2 separate regions of the Homo sapiens genome follow, and region 2 is reported to be linked to region 1. Evidence: microRNA targets listed by miRTarBase, many of them from high-throughput screens and not tested one by one. Region 1 holds a microRNA gene; the other region holds the end of a gene's coding sequence.
The links. Region 1 holds the annotated microRNA hsa-miR-6792-5p (GUAAGCAGGGGCUCUGGGUGA, at 1,364-1,384, shown strand). A microRNA usually pairs through its seed, bases 2 to 8, with sites in the 3' UTR of a target mRNA and lowers its output. Matches are read on the target gene's strand: a 7mer-m8 pairs with bases 2 to 8, a 7mer-A1 pairs with bases 2 to 7 and ends in A, and an 8mer does both.

Region 1 (3,391 bases):
ACTTGGGAGACTGAGGCAGGAGAATCGCTTGAGCCTGGGAGGTGGAGGTTGCGGTGAGCCAAGATTGCACCACTGTACTCCAGCCTGGGCAACAGAGCGAGACTCCGTCTCAGAAATAAGACAAAAAAAAAAAAAAAAGACTTCCATAGGGATGTGGGGTGCAGTGGGATGAGGGGTCTTTCTTCTGTGGCTTCATGGATAGGAACCTTTGGGAGTATGTTTGGGGTGAGGCGTTGCCAGTAGGGGCTGACCCAGTGCTGCTCCCCACTTGCCTGCTGGGCAAAGCATCCTCCCTCATAGAGGGGTCCCCCCATAGGGGTGCTGCAGAGGGCCGAGGGGTCTTGGGCAGGACTGACTCCTCCTGTGTTCCCCCCACAGCCTGCTGGACCGGGTGTTGTGGAGGGCAGGGGCTTCTGGTGGGCACTGACCTGCAATCTCTGTCCCCAGGCTCTCGGCTGAGCAAAATCTATTCCCAGTCCACCCTGTCACTGTCCACTGTGGCCAACGAGGCCCACAATAACCTCGGGGTGAAGAGGCCCACGTCTCGGTGAGTTTAGCCCGCACAGGCGGGGTTCGTATGCCGGGTGGCTTCCCAGAGCCTGGGAGGTGTGTGGGCATCTGGGTGAACCTAGAGGGCGGTATGGCTCGAGTTTATGGATACGCCATGAAGAGATGGAGGGACGCGTGTGGGCACGTGTGCATGGGGCATAGTCTGTACCTGGCAGACAGGACTCAAGCATGTGCCTCAGTGCACTTGAGTGCCAGGTGTTCCTGTGGGAGGAGGACAGCACGGGGCACTGCATGGACTTGGGAGGGTGTGCAGTGTATACCGCCTCCTCTGCAGTGTGTGTGGCCCGCCTTTTTTTTTTTTTTTTTTTTTTTTGTTTTTTTGAGAGGGAGTCTTGCTGTGTCGCCCAGGCTGGAGTGCAGTGGCGCAATCTTGGCTCACGGCAACCTCCGCCCCCTGGGTGCAAGTGATTCTCGTGCCTCAGCCTCCTGAGTAGCTGGGGTTACCCGTGCCTGTAGAGACGGTGTTTCACCATGTTGGCCAGGCTGGCCTCGAACTCCCGACCTCAAGTGATCTGCCCGCTTTGGCCTCCCGAAGTGCTGGGATTACAGGCATGAGCCACGATGCCCAGCCGTGGCCCTTATTTTCCTTGGCCCCTCTGCACATAGGGAAGCTTCCCATCTCTGACCCCACCTCCATCCCATCCTGACCCCACCTCCATCCCATCCTTCTCCCACTGCAGGGCTCCCTCCCCGTCAGGTCTCATGTCCCCAAGCCGCCTGCCTGGAAGCCGCGAACGGGACTGGGAAAATGGCAGCAATGCCTCCTCCCCAGCGTCAGTGCCCGAGTACACAGGTAAGCAGGGGCTCTGGGTGATGTGAGGAGCAACAGGCACCCTCCTCCACAGCCCCTGCTCATTCCTGCTGCCCCCCACCCCCTCCCACTGCCTCACCCTCTAGGTCCACGGCTGTACAAAGAACCCAGCGCCAAGTCCAACAAGTTCATCATCCACAATGCCCTATCACACTGCTGCCTGGCGGGCAAGGTGAACGAACCGCAGAAGAATCGCATTCTGGAGGTGAGCCCGCCCACACGTGGGAGTTGGGGGCTGGTGGGTGGGTGGGTGGCCTGACTTGGCCAGCTGACCATTTCCAGCACTCCTGCCCAGGAAATTGAGAAAAGCAAGGCCAACCACTTCCTGATCCTCTTTCGCGACTCGAGCTGCCAGTTCCGGGCGCTCTACACGCTGTCGGGGGAGACAGAGGAGCTGTCGCGGCTGGCAGGGTATGGGCCCCGGACCGTCACGCCCGCCATGGTGGAAGGCATCTACAAGTACAACTCGGACCGCAAGCGCTTCACCCAGATCCCCGCCAAGACCATGTCCATGAGCGTCGATGCCTTCACCATCCAGGGACACCTCTGGCAGGGCAAGAAACCCACCACTCCCAAGAAGGGCGGCGGCACCCCCAAATAGCCCCACCCGGGCGGTCCACGGGCCGGGCCCTGTGTGCTGCGGCCGCCATCCCCTGGAGGACAGTCAGTCGGTATTCCTGGGTCCTGTCTGTCCCCAACCGTGTCTGGGTGGGGCTGGAGTCTCCACCCTCTGACTTTGAGTCCAGTCCTGCTGTGGGGGCTGAGCTGGGAGGTTCAGGGACTCAGGGCTCAGCTCAGTCCCCTTGTCTGTCCTCCCCCACTTCTTGAATAAAATAATTTAAAGAGAAGTTGAACCTTGTCCCCCCCTCCGAGGCTGGCCGGGGTCCCACACTCCCTGGCTGTGTTTTTAGTCTCCTGTTCTTTCTCAAACCAACTCCTGTCTTCAACCCCCATAATCCCCTAATGCAGCTTCAGCCAGGGCACTCCCAGCCCCCAGCCAGGGCTGTTTCGAAGCTGCCTCTGAACTGATCTCTCAGGCTCGAGGTGTCCCACTGGCCCTTCCTGTGGCCTTGGCCACCCCCGCTTGCTGGATTCTCCTGGTCTGTGTGGCTGTTGTTACTGGCCCTAACCAGCGTTTGGCATGGGGCCAACTTCTAACTTGATCTTGTCTCCCCTGGCCAGCCTGGTGTTTCCAGGCCTGGCATCTACCTCTGGGCCAGTGATTCCAGGTTTCTCTGAGATCTGTGTTTGACAATCCAGTTGCCCCCTGCCATTGCCTGGGTGTCTCTCTCAGATGCAAGGCCTGCCCTGCAACCCAGGCTGGCACTGGCTTCCCAGCTGCCGCCCAGTTCTACACAGCTCAGCCCTCCCCTCCTGTCTCACTCGCTTCTCTCCAGCCCTGTCACCTCCCTGCAAAGTCCAAGCCAATGGCCTGGGCCTCCCCATGTCCCCAGCTGCCTCCTGCCCACACAGCAGCCTGTGTGACCCGTTCGAAGCACAAATCTGATTATATCCCTTGATACTTAAAACCCCTTAATAGCCTACAGCCCGCTAATGGCTTCCCAGGCTTAGGACTAAGGACCACGCCCTGGTCCTGGGCCGTGCACAAGGTCTGGCGCCTGGCCCCCGTCCAGGCACAGAAACGCGTTACTAATCAGTTCCCAGAGCTGGGCCAGAGCCTGCCTGACTCCAAGACTTGAGGGCAAGGGCCAGTCCCTAGTGGGGAACAGACAGTGGGTGCCACCCCAGGGAGGCGGCAGCTGCCTGGGGCCACAGAAGGGCTCTGAGAGGCAGGGGCTGGCGAGACCTGGGCAGCCAGGGGCTGGATTGCCCTTCCCAGGCTACAGAGGCTCAAGGAAGTTTCCGGGCAGGACCCACTCCAAGGCCCCAGGCAGCGGAGGGACTGGCCTCTCGAGTCCAGAACTGGCTCTGCGGGGTGAGGCCGGGCAGTATCTGGCCTGGGGCCCAGCCGCCCCACCTCCCACAGCAGCCAATCCCGGCCCAGGGCCA
Region 2 (3,391 bases), not on the chromosome of region 1:
ATATTAAAAGTTCAGTAAGTATAAAATACAACACTTGTCATTGTTACAGGTAATTTAATTTATGGGGAAATCCCTACTGTATTACAAAAGATGTTTAAAGATGACTTGGGAACCCGTAAAACTGATATTTATTAATGTAACTAACCAAGCGTAGATGTGACACCTCACTAGGGACCACTGTAATAAGGCTTCAGAGTTGAATCCTTTCCCTGGAAACCCACATAGAAAACGATGCACCCCTTTGGGTGGGTAGCAACTATGGAAGAGAAAAGCTTGTAATGTTTTGTACAGTGATACAGAGAGATGCAGGAATCTTAACACACAATAACCACTTTTATCTAGGTAACTTCCCAATATTCAAAAAAGACAGACACAATCATATAAATAACAAAAAGAGGAATTTGATTTTTGATTCATGGATGATGAGGAAAGAGATAACTAATTAGATGTTGAGATAACTAATGTAGACGTTTCCATTCATAGCGTTAAAACGCTGCAATCTGTCAAAAGCAAAAATTCAGAGCTAATTAACCATTAATGAAATTCTTTATTCAATAACCTGTTATTTCCTTTTTAAAAAAAATGAGAAAACCCAAATATTCTGGATAAATCAAAAGTTTTTGACAGTGAGATTTATTCGAAGTTTTAGCCCCCTATCTAATGGCCAGCCAGAAGGTAAAAGGAGAAATCTGTATTTCTGTTGGGAAGGAATGGTCTAAGTTAAAGAAAGGAAGCCTCAAAGAACCCAGACCTGATTATTAAAGCCATTTCTGGGCACTTGAGAGGTAAAGCTGGTCCTCATTAACTCTGCATATCTCTTCCCTTATCTCTAAGTTTGCAGCAGCATTTCCTATATCCCAAAGAAGGGGAATGTTCCCTTTAATATTTGTGCCAGCATCACCTTGACATTCAGGAAGTAAAATATAAATGCAGCTCCATTTTCCCACCTCCCATTTTCTTTCAGTAATTGCCAGCAAGCCTTCCATCATCTGCAAGTGGGGTGGGGGCAGTGTGAAGGAATTCTGCTAAAAGCGCTGCTGAAAAACCCACAGTGGCCTTTGGCCATCCAAGCAGCCATGGCTAACAGAAGGCACCTACTTTTCTATCTGAAGACTACAGGGCCCCCCAGACACGTTTTCCTTGCCAGCCCCTACCTAAGCTAAGATGGCAACTATCCCCTACCCAGTTAGGGCGTTGCCCACTTTCAAAACAAACCTTGGACAAAGAAGGATATGCTTGTGGGTCGCTTAACTCGAGGGACAGGGAAACGACAACTCAACGCCAGATGTTCTTACAACAGCGGTGGACTAACTGGTAGTCGGGAAGCTCCCTCAGTCCACTAAGTGAAGGCTGGTCTTGGAAAAGAACTGTCCCAGGCTGCCAAAGGGTTAAATATTTGTAAAGAGTAAAACCTGAGCCTCCGTGGGTTTTTTTTCTTTCTTTCTTTTGGGGTTTTTTGTTTTTGTGTATGCGCGGTTGCCCGGAGGCCTACTGGAGATTCAGTATCTCTCGGTTATTTCCTGCGATCACTAAAGCCAGTTTTCAAGAAAACAAGTCGCAGGGGTTTGAAATGTCACACCAAGTGACCTGGGCACGGCATATCCAGGGGCCATTCCCAGCTCCCTCCCACCCGGGCCACCCCCGACCCCCTCCACTTCGGTCTGGAAAGAAAATAAACCAAGGACACGCCAGACTGGTTCTGGGTGGACTTATTTTCCCGGCAGCCGCGCTCCTAGCGGGGGCTCGTTGCGGCCCCTCGGTGTATCGCTTGCAGGTGATGCCAAACGCAGATAAGCAGCCGCCGCCCGGCCCCCGCCTCTGTCTAGACTGTGGAATTAATAAATGCCGCGGATTGATCACGTCGCGCATCCACTCCGGGGACAGCGCGGGGCACGGCCCGTCACGGCCGCCCGCTCTGGCCGGGGTTGGCCTCACTGCTGTGCTGCAGGGCCAGGGGCAGCGCGCGGGGCTTCGAGCCTCACCCAGGGCCGCGGACCGCTGGGGAAGGAAGCGCCGGGAGGGCCCGCGGCGCCGAGCGAGAGTGGGGCTCGGGGCTCGGCAGGCGCCAGGCCAAGGCTGGTTCCGGGAGCGGGGCGCGCCCTCGCCCGCATAACCCTAGGCCGGAGTCCGCCGCTCAACCGCCACAAGTGCCGCAGGTTTCCCGCCCAAACGGGTCCCGCCTCCTGCCCGCGGGCCTGGGCCGCCAGGTGCCCAGGGGTCGCCAATGGGGCGCTCCTGCTTCTGGGAGGGCCCTCAGCGCGCATGCGCCCAGCCCCACCCCCTCGGCCGCGCCCAATCCCCACCGGGCCCGCCCCGCCCGCAGCACGCGGAGCCCCGGCAGCCGACGCCAGCCTGACCCCTGAACTGGCCTCCGCCGGCCCTCCCGCCGCGCCAACAGCACAGAGGAGTGGCGTCGCCCCGGGTTATTATTTTTTATTAAGATCAAAATACAAGTCCCACTATGAACTGGCTGTTCTCACAATAAATAACAATAACTTACGTTTGTTTGTTCGGCAAAGGCTCACATACTCTGTCCTCCGTCGAATAACTTAAACACTTTCAAGGCAAGTCTGGTTTCTACTGTTTCCCAGCAATCATGCGCTTTGGGAGTTTGAGTGTCTGTTCCTCTGAGTTATCCCCTTCCTTTTCCCCGCTAGGAGCCCGGGCGAAGCCGCCAGGGAGCGCTGAGCTGGGGCAGGGCGGGGGTCCGCGTGGGCGAGCTCCGGGCCGGCCGAGATGGGGACACAGGTGGGGCGTGGAGAGACAGAGCGGCGGCCACGTAGAGAGGAGAGGAGAGGGCAGAGCTAACCCTGGTAAGTCCCAGATTCTGGTTTTGAAAAACTAAGAGTCCTCGGAGCAGGGGTCTGCAGTCTGGTGAAAGCAGGTTGCATCCTGGCGCCTTGGGCTGTCCAGACCGTGTCTCTCGGTACTCTCTCATAAATAACAATAGAATAATTACGAAGGCGAGAGAGCTTTCGGAACTGGAATGGCCTGAGCATGGGTGAGTCTCATGCAGGGAGCATGCGAGGTCCGCGGGCTGGCAGGGAGGGGTCCCCCTCACGTCTCCACGGGACTCGGCACCATACTGTTGGGGGTGTCCGGGAGCTGCGAGGACAGGGAGGTCACGTCGCTGCCGGAGGAGTTGCCTAGGGAGCCGGACTCGGAGAAGGAGACCTGGGGCGGCGGAAACACCGGGAAGAGGCAGGTGAAGAGGCACGCGAGCTGGTGCTCCAGGGCCGCGTGCTCCGAGTCGGAAAGTGTCCCTTGGGGACCGGCCGCCAGCTGAGAGCAAGCCCTGCGGAGAAGGAGGCCAGGTCCCCAGGCGCACGAGGGGGGGATTAGGGCGGGGGAGCGGGTTGGTTAATCCTGCGACCTCTCTTGTGAGCACTTT

Region 2: the mRNA of ISL2 is a reported target of hsa-miR-6792-5p. The part of its 3' UTR that is shown has no 7-base or 8-base seed match.

The regions. Positions count from the first base shown.
Region 1 is chr19:7,616,076-7,619,466 of GRCh38, forward strand. MIR6792 (microRNA 6792) reads left to right here and starts at 1,364; the gene lies at 1,364-1,430. It overlaps CAMSAP3 (calmodulin regulated spectrin associated protein family member 3), which reads left to right. Exons shown (of 17, transcript NM_020902.2): 14 at 448-547; 15 at 1,251-1,363; 16 at 1,468-1,586; 17 at 1,677-2,229. The coding sequence ends at 1,982.
Region 2 is chr15:76,341,502-76,344,892 of GRCh38, reverse strand. ISL2 (ISL LIM homeobox 2) reads right to left here. Exons shown (of 6, transcript NM_145805.3): 6 at 2,418-3,174. The coding sequence ends at 3,058. It overlaps LOC124903532, which reads left to right and starts at 1,469. Exons shown (of 1, transcript XM_047433420.1): 1 at 1,469-2,500. The coding sequence starts at 1,469. The coding sequence ends at 2,113.